Regions from separate parts of the Homo sapiens genome. Here region 1 is linked to region 2. Evidence: fine-mapped expression QTL. A gene starts in region 2. The other region holds a variant in brackets. All regions are shown on one strand. Distances are from middle to middle.

Region 1 (8,393 bases), 86 kb after region 2:
CCCCATCTATTAAAAAAAGAAAGAAAGAAAAAAGAAAGGTCCCAGGTGCTGGTGACCAACAGGGAAGAGTTTTGGGTACCATCTTAGAGGGGACCCTGGGACCCCCATTGGACCGACCTGGTCTGCAGAGTCACACCTAGCTCCCTCTCCCAACTTAGCCGCTGGTAACAATCATCGTGGTAGCAAGAGTACCAAGGTGTCCTGTCAGGATGGTACCATCTGGCCCAGTTGGTTCTTAGAGACAAGGTCAAAGGGGCTCATAAGTCTGTGAGAGGCCACTGACCCCTGAGACTTGGAACCCCTCAAGGGCAAGCCCAAGTCTCTCCCTCATCAGACTGGGGAGATCCCTTGGTAATGAATCCATGCCTCCCCCATCAGACTGGGGTTGTGAGGGCAGGATCTGTGTATTCTCCATCAGACCAGAGGTTGTACAAGCAAGTCTGTGTCTCCCCCGTAAGGCTGGGGCTATGAGTACAGGGCAGTGCCCCTCTAAGACAGGGGTGGACTGGGAAACAGGTAGTTCCCAGCCAACTGCCACTGCCATTTGTCCAGGACACAGCGGGCCAGGAGCGCTACCGCACCATCACCACGGCCTACTACCGGGGAGCCATGGGCTTCCTGCTCATGTATGACATCGCCAATCAGGAATCCTTTGCCGCTGTGCAGGACTGGTGAGTGCTTGCTGATCATGGACCCCTGATCTTTGCCCTCTCCTCTGACCCCTAACCCCCCCGGCTCATGGCTCACCACTGGTAACTCTGCAGGGCCACGCAAATCAAGACCTACTCCTGGGACAACGCCCAGGTCATCCTGGTGGGGAACAAGTGTGACCTGGAGGACGAACGTGTTGTGCCTGCTGAGGATGGCCGGAGGCTCGCCGACGACCTTGGTTAGTGCCCAGCCTGGGCCACAGGCCCTGGTCTCCCAGAACCAAACCCTCATCCCCATCCTCTGATTCAGGGTCCAACCCAGTCACTGATCCTTTGAGGATCTGCCCAGGAAGATACCCATGTGTATGCCACATGTCCCGTCTAATTGCAGGGGATCCACGCGCAGGAACTCCCACTGCCCCACTGCCTATCCCCTGGGAACCCAGCAAAACCATTTCTGGAAATTGATCCTAGAGATATCCTCACCCATGTGGGATATGGTGTGTGGAGTGTAGTAGTAGTATTAGTAGGAGTGAAACCTACAGATCCCCCCCAGGTGTCTCACAGTTGGAGAACCAAGTGGACATAAAGTATATTCACATGGTGGAATACTATGCAGCCATGGAAAAGGATGGGGATGTTCTTTATTTTTTTATTTTTTATTTTTTTGAGACGGAGTCTCGCTCTGTCGCCCAGGCTGAAGTGCAGTGGCGCGATCTCGGCTCACTGCAAGCTCCGCTTCCCAGGTTTATTTTATTTTTTTGAGTTGGAGTCTCACTCTGTCACCCAGACTGGAGTGCAGTGGTGCCGTATTGGCTCACTGCAGCCTCCACCTCCCAGGTTCAAGCAATTCTCCTGCTTCAGCCTCCCAAGTAGCTGGTACTACTGGCGCGTGCCACATGCCCAGCTAATTTTTTATATTTTTAGTAAAGATGGGGTTTCACCATGTTAGCCAGGATGGTCTCCATCTCCTGACCTCGTGATCTGCCCGCCTTGGCCTCCCAAAGTGCTGGGATTACAAGCGTGAGGCACCATGCCTGGCCTTTTTTTTTAATTTTGCGTGGAGATAGGGTCTCGCTATGTTTCCCAGGCTGGCCTCGAACTCCTGACCTTAAGTGATCCTCCCTCCTCAGCCTCCCAAAGTGCTAGGATTGCAGGCATGAGCCACCACACCAGCCCAAGGGGATGTTCTTTATGGTTTGTTTTTGTTTTTGTTTGAGATGGAGTCTCCCTCTGTTGCCCAGGCTAGAGTGCAGTGGTGCGATCTTGGCTCACTGCAACCTCTACCTCCTGCATTCAAGTGATTCTCCTTCCTCAGCCTCCTGAGTATCCAGGATTACAGGTGTGCGCAGCATGCCTGACTCATTTTTGTATTTTCAGTAGAGATGGGGTTTTGCCATGTTGGCCAGGCTGGTCTTGAACCCCTGACAGGTGATCCACCTGCCTCAGCCTCCCGAAGTGTTGGGATTACAGGCGTGAGCCACCGTGCCTGGCTGTTTTGTTCTAGCAAAATAGTGGATACGACTGCTTTCTTTAGTCCAGGAGTCAGCAAACCTTTTCTTAAAGGGCCAGATAGTAAATATTTTTGGCCATACAGTCTCTATGGCAACTACCCAACTCTGCATGACAGCAGCCACAGACAATGCATAAATGAATGGGTGTGACTGTTTGCCAATAAAACTTTATTTGTGGCCGGGCGTGGTGGCTCATGCCTGAAATCCCAGCACTTTGGGAGGCTGAGACAGGCAGATCACCTGAGGCCAGGAGTTCTAGACCAGCCTGGCCAACATGGCAAAACCCCGTCTCTACTAAAAATGCACAAAAATTAGCCGGGCATGGTGACAGACGCCTGTAATCCCAGCTACTTGGGAGGCTGAGGCAGAAGAATCACTTGAACCTGAGAGGTGGAGGCTGCAGTGAGCCGATATCACGCCACTGCACTCCAGCCTGGGCAATGGGGGGAGACTCTGTCTCAAAAGAAAAAAAAAAAAAGGAAAGAAAGAAACTGATGCTTGCAATCAGTTTTTAACCCCAGCTTTCCCATAAGCCCCATCCAAGCCAGCACCCTATGTGCAAAATTCAGAAGGCACAGGAAGAGACTAAGGCAATAACCCACTCCCCACCTGCAGTTCTGGTCTCCCAGCTTCTCTGATTCTTGTATCTCTTTCCAGAAATATGCTGAGCACCCACAGGCATTGACAACACATTGGCTACTTTTTTGTTTTACACAGATGTTCCCTACTGTATATACCCTTTCCTGCACTTTGAACTTTTCTACTAAATAATATATCCTAGAAATATTTCTCTGCCGGGCGCAGTGGCTCACGCTTGTAATCCCAGCACTTTGGGAGGCCGAAGAGGGCGGATCATGAGGTCAGGAGATCAAGAACATCCTGGCTAACACTGTGAAACTCCATCTCTACTAAAAATACAAAAAAATTAGCCAGGCGTGGTGGTGGGCGCCGGTAGTCCCAGCTTCTCGGGAGGCTGAGGCAAGAGAATGGTGTGAACCCGGGAGGCGGAACTTGCAGTGAGCCAAGATCACGCCACTACACTCCAGCCTGGGTAGAAGAGCAGGACTCTTTCTCAAAAAAAAAAAAAAAAAGAAATATTTCTCCATCAGCCCCAGAGCTGGCTCATTCTTTTGCATGGCTGTGTACTATTCCATTTCGTGTTTCCTTAACCTTTTCCTCTGTTGACAGCCATGGAGATTATTTCTAGCCTTTTCCTCTGACAAATGCAGCTGCAGCAGTCATTTTTACATATATTTCTTTGGACACATGAGGCAAGAAATCTGCCAGCTTGATTCACAGATGTTCTTAACACTTTTTTTTTTTGAGATGGAGTCACTGCACCTGGTTGGTTTTTATAGTCCCGGCCTACACTTTTTTAAAAAAATAACTTTGGCCAGGAATGGTGGCATGTGCTTGTAATCCCAGCTACTCTGGAGACTGAATTAGGAGGATTGCTTCAGGCCAAGAATTTGAGACCAGCTTGGGCAATATAGCGAGACCCTGTCTCAAAAAAGGAAGAAAATAATAACTTTTTGTGATAAAAATGTTCAAATACTCTCAGCACATTGGGAGGGCAAGGTGGGTAGATCGCTGAAGCCCAGGACTTTGAGACCAGCCTGGTCAACATGGTAAACCCTGTCTCTACAAAAAAATGCAAAAATTAGCTAAGCATGGTGGCTCACACCTATAGTCTCAGCTACTCAGGAGGCTGAGGTGGGAGGATCGCTTGAGCCTGGGAGGCAGAGGTTGCATTGAGCCAAGATTGCACCACTGTATGCCAGCCTGGGTGACAGAGTGAGACCTTGTCTCAAAAAACAATGAAATAAAATGAGAAATGTTCGGCCAGGCGTGGTGGCTCACGCCTGTAATCCCAGCACTTTGGGAGGCCGAGGCAGGCGGATCACCTGAGGTCAGGAGTTTGAGACCAACCTGACCAACATGGTGAAACCTCATCTCTACTAAAAATACAAAATTAGCCGGTCGTGGTGGCGCATGCCTGTAATTCCGGCTACTCAGGAGGCTGAGGGAGGAGAATCACTTGAACCCAGGAGGCGGAGGTTGTGTGAGCTGAGATCGCACCATTGCACTCCGGCCTGGGTAAGAAGAGTGAAACTCCATCTAAGAAAAGTTCAAATACATTCACAAGTAGAAAGGAATGTATAATAGACTTTGATAAAACATTATTCAGCTTAATTAGGTCTCAACATTTTTTCAATCTTGAATCATCTATTCCCCCAAAATACTTTTCCTTTTTTTCCTAGAGCATTGAGAGCAAACCCTTGACATCGAAACCTTTTGTCTGTAAACACTTCACTATGCAACTCCAGCTGTTTTGTTGTCGTCGT[C/T]GTTTTTTAAATAATAGAGACAGAGCCTCACTCTTTCACCCAGGCTGGAGTACAGTGGTGTGATCCCACCACTTTAGGAGGCTGAGGAGGGAGGATTGCTTGAGCCCAGGGGTTAGAGACCAGCCTGGGCAACATAGTGAGACCCCAACTCTACAAAATAAGTTTAAAGCTCCCTGTAGCCTCAGACACCTGGGCTCAAGTGATTCTGCTGCCTCAGCCTTTCAAGTAGCTGGGACTACTAGTATAAGCCAGCACACTGGCTAATTTTTTATTTTTATTTTTTGTAGAGATGAGGTCTCACTATATTGCCCAGGCTGGTCTTGAACTCCTGGGCTCAAGCAGTCGGCCTGCCTCAGCCTCCCAAAGTGCTGGGATTACAGGCATGAGCCACGGCACCTGGTTGGTTTTTACATTTTTAAGTGGTTGAAAAAAAATAATATGACATGGGAAATTTATATGAAATTCAAATTTGTATCTATAAATGAAGTTTTTCTGAGACACAGCTATACCCTTTTAAAAGAATTTTTTTTTTACACGGAGTCTTGCTCTTGTCGCCCAGGCTGGAGTGCAATGGCGTGATTTCGGCTCATTGCCACCTCCGCCTCCCCAGTTCAAGTGATTCTCTTGCCTCAGCCTCCTGAGTAGCTGGGATTACAGGCACCCACCACCACGGGGCCTGGCTAATTTTTGTATCTTTAGTAGAGATGGGGTTTCACTATGTTAGCCAGGCTGGTCTGGAATTCCTGACCTCAGGTGATCCACCCGCCTCAACCTCCCAACCATTTATTTTTTAAATTTTTTTTTTTTTTTTGAGGCAAGGTCTCTCTCTGGTGCTCAGGCTGGAGTGCAGTGGCACGATCATAACTCAAAGCAGCCTCCAACTCCTGGGCTCAAGTGATCCTCCCACCTCAGCCTCCCAAGTAGCTGGGATGCCAGGTGTACTCCACCACACCTGCCTAATTAAAAAAAAATTTTTTTGCCGGGCGCAGTGGCTCATGCCTGTAATCCCAGCACTTTGGGAGGCCGAGGCGGGTGGATCACAAGGTCAGAAGCTTGAGACCACCCTGGCCAACATGGTGAAACCCCGTCTCTACTAAAAATACAAAAAAATTAGCCGGGTGTGGTGGTACACACCTGTAATCCCAGCTACTCAGGAGGCTGAGGCAGGAGAATTGCTTGAACCTGGGAGGCAGAGGTTGCAGTGAGCCGAGATCGTGCCACTGCACTCCAGCCTGGGCAAGAGAGCGAGACTCCGTCTCAAAAAAGAAAAAAATTTTAAGAGATAGGTCTTGCCATGTTGTCTGGGCTGATCTTGAACTCCTGGGCTTAAGCAGTCCTCCCACCTTGGCCTCCCAAAGTGCTGGGATCACAGGAGTGAACTCACACCCGTGCTCAGTTGATGCCTATTTGTTGATGCATTGTCTATGGTTGCTATTTTTATGGTAATCACACGTCTGTGATTACAGGCTGTCTCAATACAGAAAAGGGTATAAACAGTGCTTCAAGCGTGAAATTGAGTAATTGAGACAGAGACCATATGACCCAGAAAGCCTAAAATATTTACGATCTGGCCTTTTACAGAGGAGGTTTGCTGACCTCTAAGCCATAACCAGTCCCTTTCCCCTTTTATTCTTGCCATTGCTTTGTTGGAGAAACTGGATCTCTGTTCTGTGGGGCAGGGCCCTGGATCCCCAGTTAGCCTGGAAGTGGTGAAATCAGTTAACGCCCGCGATGGGCTGGAATACTTGGAGGTGCTTTCCACACCTACTTGCGGATTATATCTGGGGTCTCGGGGTAAAGGGGGATTCTCACTTTCTGTTATTATGTTTAAAATATTGGAGTACAGGCCAGGTTCGGTGGCTCACGCCTGTAATCCTAGCACTTTGGGAGGCTGAAGTGGGCAGATCACTTGATGTCAGGAGTTCGAGACCAGCCTGGCCAACATGGTAAAACCCTGTCTCTACCAAAAATACAAAAATTAGCTGGGTGTGGTGGCACGTGCCTGTAATCCCAGCTACTTGGAAAGCTGAGGTATGAGAACCATTTGAACCCGGGAGGCGGAGGTTGCAATGAGCCAAGATCGCGCCATTGCGTTCCAGCCTGGGTGATGGAGTGAGCCTGTATCTCACACACACACAAAAAGAAGATTGGCATACAAAGCAGGACACAGAATTTGATCCCAATTTTTTTTTCTTTTCTTTTGTTTTATTTTTTTTTTTGAGATGGAGTTTCGCTCTTGTTGCCCAGGCTGGAGTGCAGTGGCACAATCTTGGCTCGCTGCAACCTCCGCCTCCCAGGTTCAAGCAATTCTCCTGCCTCAGCCTCCCGAACAGCTGGGATTACAGGCATGTGCCACCACGCCTGGCTACTTTTGTATTTTTAGTAGAGATGGGGTTTCACCATGTTGGTCAGGCTGGTATCAAACTCCTGACCTCAGGTGATCCGCTGCCTCGGCCTCCCAAACTGCTGGGATTACAGGTGTGAGCCACCACGCCTGGCCTGATTCCAATTTTGTAGGAAAAAAAGCCAGACACACATACATGTGCACACACACATCCCCTACAAACCTAACCCCAACAAATGACATATTTATATAGAAAAAGACTAAAGGCTGGGCATGGTGGCTCATGCCTGTAATCCTTGCACTTTGGGAGGTCAAGGCAGAGGATCACTTGAGTCTAGCAGTTAGAGACCAGCATGGGCAACATGGTGAAGCCCCACCCCTATAAAAAATACCAAAAATCGGCTGTGTGTGGTGGCACACCCCTATAGTCCCAGCTACTTGGGAGACTGAGGGGGGCCCAAGAGTCAAGGCCGTAGTGAGTTATGATTATACCACTGCACTCCAGCCTGGGCAACAGAGGGAGACTCTGTCTTAAAAAAAAAAAAAAAAAGATGAATAAAGACTAGAAAGCTAAATAGCAAAACGCCAACAGTAATTGTTTCCAAGTGATGAGATTACAAATTACTTTTATCTCTATCTCCATACATTTCTTTGTGTTTTTGTTTTGAGACAGGGTCTCACTCTGTTGCCCAGGCTGGAGTGCAATGGCATGACCTCAGCTCACTGCAGCCTCAACTTCCCTGGCTTAGGTCATCCTCCCACCTCAGCCTCCCAAGTAGGTGGGACTACGGGTGCATGCCACCACACCTGGCTAATATTTATTTATTTATTTATTTAGAGATGGAGTCTTGCTCTGTTGCCAGGCTGGAGTGCAGTGGCATAATCTCGGCTCACTGCAACCTACACCTCCCGGGTTCAAGCAATTCTTCTGCCTCAGCCTCCTGAGTAGCTGGGACTGCAGGCACGTGCCACCACACAAAGCTAAATTTTGTATTTTTAGTAGAGACGGGGTTTCACCGTATTGGCCCTGGTCTCGAACTCCTGACCTCGTGATCCGCCCACCTCCGTCTCCCAAAGTGCTGGAATTACAGGCGTGAGCCACCACGCCTGGCACCCCCCAACCTTCTTCTTTTTTTTTTTTTTTTTTTTGAGATAATATCTTGTTCTGTCACCCAGCCTGGAGTACAATGGCACAATCTCGGCTCACTGCAACCTCCGCCTCCCAGGTTCAAGTGATCCTCCTGCTTCAGCCTCCTAAGTAGCTGGGATCACAGGTGTGCACCACCATGGCCAGCTAATTTTTGCATTTTTAGTAGAGACGGGGTTTCATCATGTTGGCCAGGCTGGTCTCAAACTCCAGACCTCAAGTGATCCGCTCACCTTGGCCTCCCAAAATGCTGGTATTACAGGCGTGAACCACCATGCCTGGCCTTAATTTTTATATTTTCTTTAGAGACTGGGTCTTGCTATGTTGCCCAGGCTGGTCTCAAACTTGTGAGCTCAGGTACCCACCTGCCTCAGTCTCCCAAAGTACTGGGAT
Region 2 (8,210 bases):
GTGGCCTGCCACATCCTCTGTCCCGGACGTCAGAGGCCCCGCCCACAGGGGAAGCCCCACCCCATTCCTCAGAGTCCCCGCCCCACCTCCCTGGGGAAGCTCTCACTCCCCAAGGAAGCCCAAGACGTCAGAGACCCTGTCCCGTCTCAAGCTCCGCCTCCAAGGGAAAGAAGTCCCACCCTGTCCCCGAAAAGCTCGGAGACCTATCTGCAGTTCTGGAGCAGCCCGAGACAGAAGACCTATCCTGCCCGCAGCAGAGGGCCATTTCTTCAGGAGGCCATCCCACAATGGCCTCCCTCGAATCCTTACTGTTCCCAAGAGGCCTCCCCGAAACCTTTACATATAGAGTTAGAGTTCAGAGGCTCCCCCATCACAGACGTGGCCTTGACCTAAGTCCCCGCCCCCAATGGCTAGGATCGACCCTGCAGGTGGGCCCTTACCTCCTAGGCCCCGCCCCCGAAAGAAAAGCCCCGCCCCTGGGTGGAGCCTTCCAAGAGGCCCCACCCCTCTCGGCTGACCCGGCTCTACCCTGGCCGCAGGAGGACGGCCGCTTCGCGGGAAAGGAGCTGGATCCCCAGGCAGATAACTATGTGCCAAACCTGCTGGGCCTCGTGGAGGAAAAGCTGCTGAAACTGCAGGCGCAGCTCCAGGGCCACGACGTGCAGGAGATGCTGTGCCACATCGCTAACCGCGAGGTGCCCTGCAGCCATGGGGCAGAGCTCCAGAGATCTAGGAGTAGGGCTGGGTCGGAAAACCAGGGAACCGGGGGCAACTTCGGGAGACCAGATTGCAGGCTGATCAGCCAGGAAGGGGTCTCGGGGACAACGGGCGAGGTTTGACGAGCCAGGGGTGAGCCCGAGCCACGAGGGAAGAAACCAGAAGAGGTGCAGGCGGGTCCTGTGAGGCTAGAGGACGCGGCTGGGGTATCCGGATGGGGAGAGGCCTAGTGGCAGGGCCCCAGAGACCAGGGGCGGACCTGAGTGATGAGGGGGTGAAGCTGGGTATCAAGGTGCCTGCTTAAGGAGGGATGGGAGTGGGCAGTGGTCTCCAGTTGGAACTAGGGCATATCTCGGAATGGGGTAGGGAGGAGGGGGAACGTGACTTCTCGGTGGCCCCTGGCCCCGCCCACCTTCCTCTCTCGCTTCCCATCCCCGCTTAGTTCCTCGCCAGCTTAGAGGGAAGGCTGCCCGAATACAACACCCGCATCGCCCTGCCCCTTGCCACTTCCAAGGACAAGTTTTTTGGTCAGTATGGGTGGGGGGATGAAGGGGTGCGGTTGGGGCCCCAAGCTGGGTAGCAGGAGGTTGTCAGATACCCTGTTCAGGGCCAAGGTGGGGGTGGAGTGGGGTGGTAAAGGGAAGGGGAGCCAGGGATGGGGACCTGGATCCCACATCGCTCCCTGCTCATCCCCCCACCCCCCTTAGACGAAGAGAGTGAGGAGGAGGACAACGAGGTAGTGACCCGCGCATCACTCAAGATCCGTTCCCAGAAATTAATCGAAAGTCACAAGAAGCACCGTCGCTCTCGGAGGTCCTAGACTCGTCCTGACACCCACCAGGCGGCCCCCTTCGGAGCCCCCGATCCCTCCGGGTCTAGCGCAGGCCCCACGGGGCCCCTTCAGGGGCTGAACGCGGCCCGGACCGGGAACGGAGGCGGCCAGCGGCGCCCGGAGGGGAGGAAGGGGCCGGGCCAGACGTTCCCACAGTAAATCTCCCCAGCTGGGTCCGCCCCGGCCTCAGAGTTGCGCAATAAATGTTACCGACCATGCCCCTGGGTATTCATCTGTTTTTGACCCTGCACCACCCAAGAGACGGCTGTCCCTGAAAACCCAGGGCCACAGACTGCCTCCTCCAACCTGGGTCATGATGACTCCCATCAGCTAGTGACGCAGATGGAGCTTAAAAATGGGAGATGGCCCGATGTAGTGGTTTTATGCCTGTAATCCCAGTATTTTGGGAGGCTGAGTTGGGAGGATCACTTGAGTCCAGGAGCTCCAGGCTGCAGTGAGCTATGATCGTGCTACTGCACTCCAGCCTGGGCCACAGAGCCAGACCCTGTCTCAATAAATAAAATAAGGGCGGGGTGCAGTGGCTCATTCATACCTATATTCCCAGCACTTTGGGAGGCTGAGCTGGGTGTGTCGCTTGAGCCCAGGGGTTCCAGACTAGCCTGGGCAACATGGTGAAAACCAGTTTTTACCAAAAAAAAAAAAAAAAAAAAAAAAAAAAAAAAAAAAGCTGAGCATGGTGGCATATGCCTGTAGTCCCAGCTACTTGGGAGACTGAGGCAGGAGAATGGATTGAACCCAGGAGGCGGAGATTGCAGTGAGCCAAGATCAAGCCACTGCACTGCAGCCTTGGCAACAGGAGTGAGACCCTGTCTCTAAAAAATAATAAGGCTGGGCGCCGTGGTTCATGCCTGTAATCCCAGCATTTTGGGAGGCTGAGGTGGGCGAATCTCTTGAGGCCAGGAGTTTGAGACCAGCCTGGCAAGTATGGCAAAACCCCGCCTCTACAAAAAATACAAAAATTAGCTGAGCATGGTGGCGGCACCTGTAATCCTAGCTACTTGGGAGGCTGAGGCACAAGAATCCTTTGAATCTGGGAGGCGGAGGTTGCAGTGAGTTAAGATCAAGCCACTGTACTCCAGCATGGGTGACAGAACGAGACTCCATCTCAAAATAATAGCAATAATAATAAAAAGTGGAAGATGCCCCCACACTTGATCAAGCTAGCCCCTTCCACTGGAGGACAGAGGACTCTGGTCTGGGGACACACACATGCCCCCACACAGGAGCTCCCCCACATCTGGGGATACAAAAAAGACCCCTTGGGGACAGATATGTCCTTTCTTCTGGGGACAGATTGATAGGCACCCAGCGGAAGAGCCAGGACCTCTCCTGGGCTGGCGCTGGGTCCGGCTGGAGGCACCCAGAGGCTGGGTCCGGCCTGCCCTGCCCCGCCCCGCCCCAGCAGCTCGGCCGCTCCGCCCCTCTGGCCTCAGCGCCCGGCCACTGCCCGCCGCCCGCCACCCGCCACCCGCCGGCCCTTCCGCCTCACTCAGCGGCGCCACTGAGAGGGACGGGCGCCGGCCATGGAGCGCACAGCAGGCAAAGAGCTGGCCCTGGTAAGGGGACAAGGGATCCCCGGACCCCGCATCCCTGGTGACCCGCAGGTCCAGAAACTCCAAGCGCCCGCCCGTCGGACGGTATCTGCTCCCAATCTGAACTTGCCCTGGAGTCCCCTCCTGGGGACTCGCGGCCCTTGACCCAGTGAAGCGACTGGTTCCTCTTAGGGATGGGGGCGCGAGTCTCTGAGCGCAGTCGGCAGAAAGAGCTAGAGACAGGTTCTATTAGACTGGGCCCTGGGACATCCCCAAATGCCACCCCATGTCCTCAGGACCTGGGAGGAGGGGACCCGCAGCGAGGAGGGGACTAGCCTGGGACCCCAGCCCTAGTCTCGCAGCTTCTGGCCGGGAAGGGGCGTGGGGATGCAGCAGGAGGACTCGGCCCGAGTCCGAGCGGCCAAGGAGGCTGAGGCCCCAGGACCTGTGCCCCTTTGGTGCCCTGAGTCCGCCTGTGCGTCCAGGCACCGCTGCAGGACTGGGGTGAAGAGACCGAGGACGGCGCGGTGTACAGTGTCTCCCTGCGGCGGCAGCGCAGTCAGCGCAGGAGCCCGGCGGAGGGCCCCGGGGGCAGCCAGGTGAGGAGGGGGTTTGGTGGGTGGCGCGGGGCCGGAAGCGACCAGTTGAGGGCGGAGCTGGAGAGCCGAGCACAGGCCGCCAGGTGCAGTGGGCGGAAGGAAGGGAGGGGCTCGGAGGCGACCAGATGAGGCGACCAGGTAGAAAGGGGACTGGGGGCGGCCAGGTAAGTGGGGGGAGATCCAGGGAATGGGGTGGGGCCAGGCGATGGCCGCGCAGTTCCCGAGAGGAGCCTAGGGACAACTTGGTAAGGACAGAACTGGACGGCAGAGTTGGGAAAGGCAGGTTTAGAGGGCCGGGGCTGGAAGGTGGAATGGGGTTGGTTTAGAAGTGGCTAGGTGAGGGCGGATGGGGCAGCCAGTGAAGCGCGACAGGAGGGCTGAGGGAAGCCCTGGGTGGAAAAGAGTGTGTGGGGCGGGGGCGGGGGGGTGGGGGGAGGGGACGGGAGGGGGAGGGGACGGGAGAGGGAGTAGGGGACAGGGCATGGGAGAGGGAGGGTTTCCAGGGCAAGTTGCAGGAGCTATTTGTGGATGGGGAGGAACAATAACTTCAAGCGGGCAGGGAGTGGGGCACACACCTATAATCCCTGCGCTTCGAGAGACCAAGGCAGAAGGCCAGGAATTGGAGACCAGCCTGGACAACACAGCAAGATTCTCTCTAATAAAAATAAAAATTAAAAAACTAGCTGTGCGTGATGATGCCCAGCAGTGGTCCCAGCTACTCAGGAGGCTGGGGCAGAGGGACCGCTTGAGTCTAGGACTTGGAGGCTGCAGTGAGCTATGATTGTGCCACTGCACCCCAGCCTGGGCAACAAAACAAGACCTGTTTCTAAAAAAAACAAACCAAAACAATAACTCCAAGAAGCCGGGAGACAGAGGAATCACATGAAAGAATGGTGCTACAGGCGGGGCGAGGTGGCTCACGCCTGTAATCCCAGCACTTTGGGAGGCCGAGGCAAGTGGATCATCAGGTCAGGAGTTCAAGACCAACCTGGCCAAGACGGTGAAACACCGTCTCTACTAAAAATACGAAAAAACTAGCTGGGCTTGGTGGCGGGTGCCTGTAATCCCAGATACTTGGGAGGCTGAGGCAGAGAATTGCTTGAACCCAGGAGGCGGAGGTTGCAGTGAGCCAAGATCACGCCACTGAACTCCAGCCTAGGTGACAGAGTGAGATTCTGTCTCAAAAAAAAAAAAAAAAAAGTGGTGCTAGGGGCTGGGCACGGTGGTTCACGCCTGTAATCCTAGCCCTTTGGGAGACTTTGGGAGGCCAAGGGGGGCAGATTACTTGAGGTCAGGAGTTCGAGACCAGTCTGACCAACATGGTGAAACCCTATCTCTACAAAAATACAAAAATTAGCTGGGCTTGGTGGTGTGCGCCTGTAGTTTCAGCTACTTGGAGGCTGAGGAAGGAGGATTGCTTGAACCCAGGAGGCAGAAGTTGAAGTGACCCAAGATCGTGCCACTGCACTCCAGCCTGGGCAACAGAGTGAGACTCTGTCTCAAAAAAAAAAACAAAAAAAAAAAGAGTGGTGCTAGTGATGAATGTGACTAGAGAAGGGGTGCTGTGAGGACCACTCCTGCTCTCTCATGGCCACCTCTCCCCTCCTGCAGGCTCCCAGCCCCATTGCCAATACCTTCCTCCACTATCGAACCAGCAAGGTGAGGGTGCTGAGGGCAGCGCGCCTGGAGCGGCTGGTGGGAGAGTTGGTGTTTGGAGACCGTGAGCAGGACCCCAGCTTCATGCCCGCCTTCCTGGCCACCTACCGGACCTTTGTACCCACTGCCTGCCTGCTGGGCTTTCTGCTGCCACCAATGCCACCGCCCCCACCTCCCGGGTCAGTAGCGAACCATAACCTCCGTATTCTCCACCCTAGAACCCCAACTGGGCACCCCCCTCCACCTCCTCAGGTGTGGAACCTGGAAACACCTCCCAGACCCAGAGCCCTCTTCCTAAGCCCCCTCTAGGTTCCCCCTTCTTCACCTGCTGGGGGGCCTCTTCCCAGGGTAGAGATCAAGAAGACAGCGGTACAAGATCTGAGCTTCAACAAGAACCTGAGGTGGGTCCTTCATCCAGATAGGGGAGTGCGGGGAGGGAAATCCAAGAGGTCAAAGGTTAGCAGTCGGACTGGGGTTTTGAAAATTGCAGGTTGGGTAATAAGAGACTGGGAGTCAGGTGGGGCGTGGTGGCTCATGCCTGTAATCCCAACACTTTGGGAGGCCGAGGCAGGTGGATCACTGGAGGTCAGGAGTTAGAGACCATCCTGGCCAATATGGCGAAACCCTGTCTCTACTAAAAATACAACAACAACAAAAAAAGGTAGCTGGGTGTGGTGGCGCATGCCTGTAGTCCCAGCTACTCGGGAGGCTGAGGTTGCAGTGAGTCAAGATCAGGCCATTGCACTGCAGCCTTGGTGACACAGTAAGACTCTATCTCAAAAAAAAAAAAAAAAAAAAGGTACCAGGAGTCATATTCTATGTCCCCCACTCTGGACCCAGCTCTGAGACCCTGCCTCTCTGGCCAGGGCTGTGGTGTCAGTGCTGGGCTCCTGGCTGCAGGACCACCCTCAGGATTTCCGAGACCACCCTGCCCATTCGGACCTGGGCAGTGTCCGAACCTTTCTGGGCTGGGCGGCCCCAGGGAGTGCTGAGGCTCAAAAAGCAGAGAAGCTTCTGGAAGATTTTTTGGAGGAGGCTGAGCGAGAGCAGGAAGAGGAGCCGCCTCAGGTGTGGACAGGTGAGGGGTTTTCAGATCCAGTCGTGTTCTGAGAAGGCCTTTCCTGTCTGCTTCTTCCCACACAGGCTTTCTCTCCCCTCTCAGAGCTACAAAACTTAAGCAAGATTTTAAACTCTAAGCCTCAATTTCTTCATCTTTACAATGGGGATAATAATTCTTTGTCAGCCGGGCGTGGTGGCTCACGCCTGTATCCCAGCAGTTTGGGAGGCCAAGGATGGTGTATCACCTGAGGTCAGGAGTTTGAGACCAGTCTGACAAACATGGAGAAACCCCATCCCTACTAAAAATACAAAATTAGCCGGGCGTGGTGGGGCATGTCTATAATCCCAGCTATTCGGGAGGCTGAGGCAGGAGAATCGTTTGAACCCGGGAGGCGGAGGTTGCGGTGAGTCGAGATCGTGCCATTGCACTCTCGCCTGGACAACCAGAGCGAAACTCCGTCTAAAAAAAAAAACAAATTCTTTGTCTGAAGTATTAGCATGTGTCTAATACTTTTCCCTCCTTGGTGCCGTTGGGTCAGGATGCTCTGTGTTTCTAGCTACAAACCATTGCCTTGATACTTGTCTTTATTTTCTTTTTTTTGAGTCAGGGTCTTGCTCCGTTGCTCAGGCTGGAGTGCAGTGTCTCCATCATGGCTCAGTGCAGGCTCAACATCCTGGACTCAGGTGATCCTCCCGCCTGGGTCTCCAAAACTGCTGGCATTACAGGCGCGAGCCACTATACCTAGCCTGTAAAATTTTTCTTATTTTTGAATTTCTTTTTAAATTTAATTTAATTTAATTTTATTTTTTTATCTATTTTTTTTTTTAGACAGAGTCTCGCACTGTTACCCAGGCTGGAGTGCAGTGGCACAATCTTGGCTCACTGCAACCTCCACCTCCTGGGCTCAAGCCATTCTCCTGTCTCAGCCTCCTGAGTAGCTGGGACCACAGGCGCATGTCACCACGCCCGGCTAATTTTTTTGTAAAGGTGAGGTTGTGCCATGTTGCCCAGGCTGGTCTCAAACTCCTGAACTCAAGTGATCTGCCTGCCTTGGCCTCCCAAAATGCTGGGATTACAGCCATAAGCCATTGTGCATGCGTAGCCTCCTTACTTGATTATTGGCTTTTGCTCATCTCATAGGCTGTGAGTGCATGAGAGGAGGACCTGTTGTTCTTGCTCCCAGCTCTGTCCCCAGGGGCAGGAACAACACAGATTAGTTTGCTGAATAATTGCATCCTGCTTAGGAAGTATCATCTTTCACCCATCTGTATTTGATCTGATCCACATCACAAAAGCATCTCTATCCCTAATCCCCATCGCTTAATCTCCAGATTATAGTGGCCACCTTCCTGTCCAATTTACAAAGTAGCAGCCACTTCTCTATCCCTGGTGACAAAGTCTCAGTTATTTATATATATATAAAGGTATATATATATATATATATATATATATATATATATATATGAAGGTGTATATATATATATATATATGAAGGTATATATATATATGTATATATATGAAGGTATATATATATAAAGGTATATATATATAAAGGTATATATATAAAGGTATATATATATATAAAGGTATATATAAAGGTATATATATATAAAGGTATATATATATATATGAAGGTATATATATATATGTATATATATGAAGGTATATATATATAAAGGTATATATATATAAAGGTATATATATAAAGGTATATATATATATAAAGGTATATATATATAAAGGTATATATATATATAAAGGTATATATATATAGGTGTATATATATATATATA

Alleles and levels. Positions count from the first base shown, and alleles are read on the strand shown. Sizes are in standard deviations (SD) of each study's normalised expression.
For the expression in whole blood of the gene that starts at base 3,058 in region 2, allele C in region 1 goes with a lower level than allele T (moderate effect, 0.48 SD a copy in Lepik 2017).

Evidence for each region. PIP is the estimated chance that this variant, and not a neighbour inherited with it, causes the effect.
Region 1: its variant is fine-mapped to the expression of RGL3 in whole blood (Lepik 2017, PIP 0.95).

What each region holds. Positions count from the first base shown.
Region 1 is chr19:11,327,943-11,336,335 of GRCh38, reverse strand. RAB3D (RAB3D, member RAS oncogene family) reads left to right here. Exons shown (of 5, transcript NM_004283.4): 3 at 553-671; 4 at 765-889. Among named protein-coding and RNA genes, the nearest start is that of RAB3D, 7.5 kb to the left of the region's middle. The variant C/T (reference allele first, on the strand shown) is at 4,510.
Region 2 is chr19:11,414,162-11,422,371 of GRCh38, reverse strand. RGL3 (ral guanine nucleotide dissociation stimulator like 3) reads left to right here and starts at 3,058. Exons shown (of 19, transcript NM_001035223.4): 1 at 3,058-3,126; 2 at 3,588-3,701; 3 at 5,313-5,536; 4 at 5,705-5,758; 5 at 6,224-6,435. The coding sequence starts at 3,094. ODAD3 (outer dynein arm docking complex subunit 3) reads left to right here. Exons shown (of 13, transcript NM_145045.5): 11 at 540-695; 12 at 1,160-1,244; 13 at 1,425-1,767. The coding sequence ends at 1,537. RefSeq lists an enhancer at 949-998.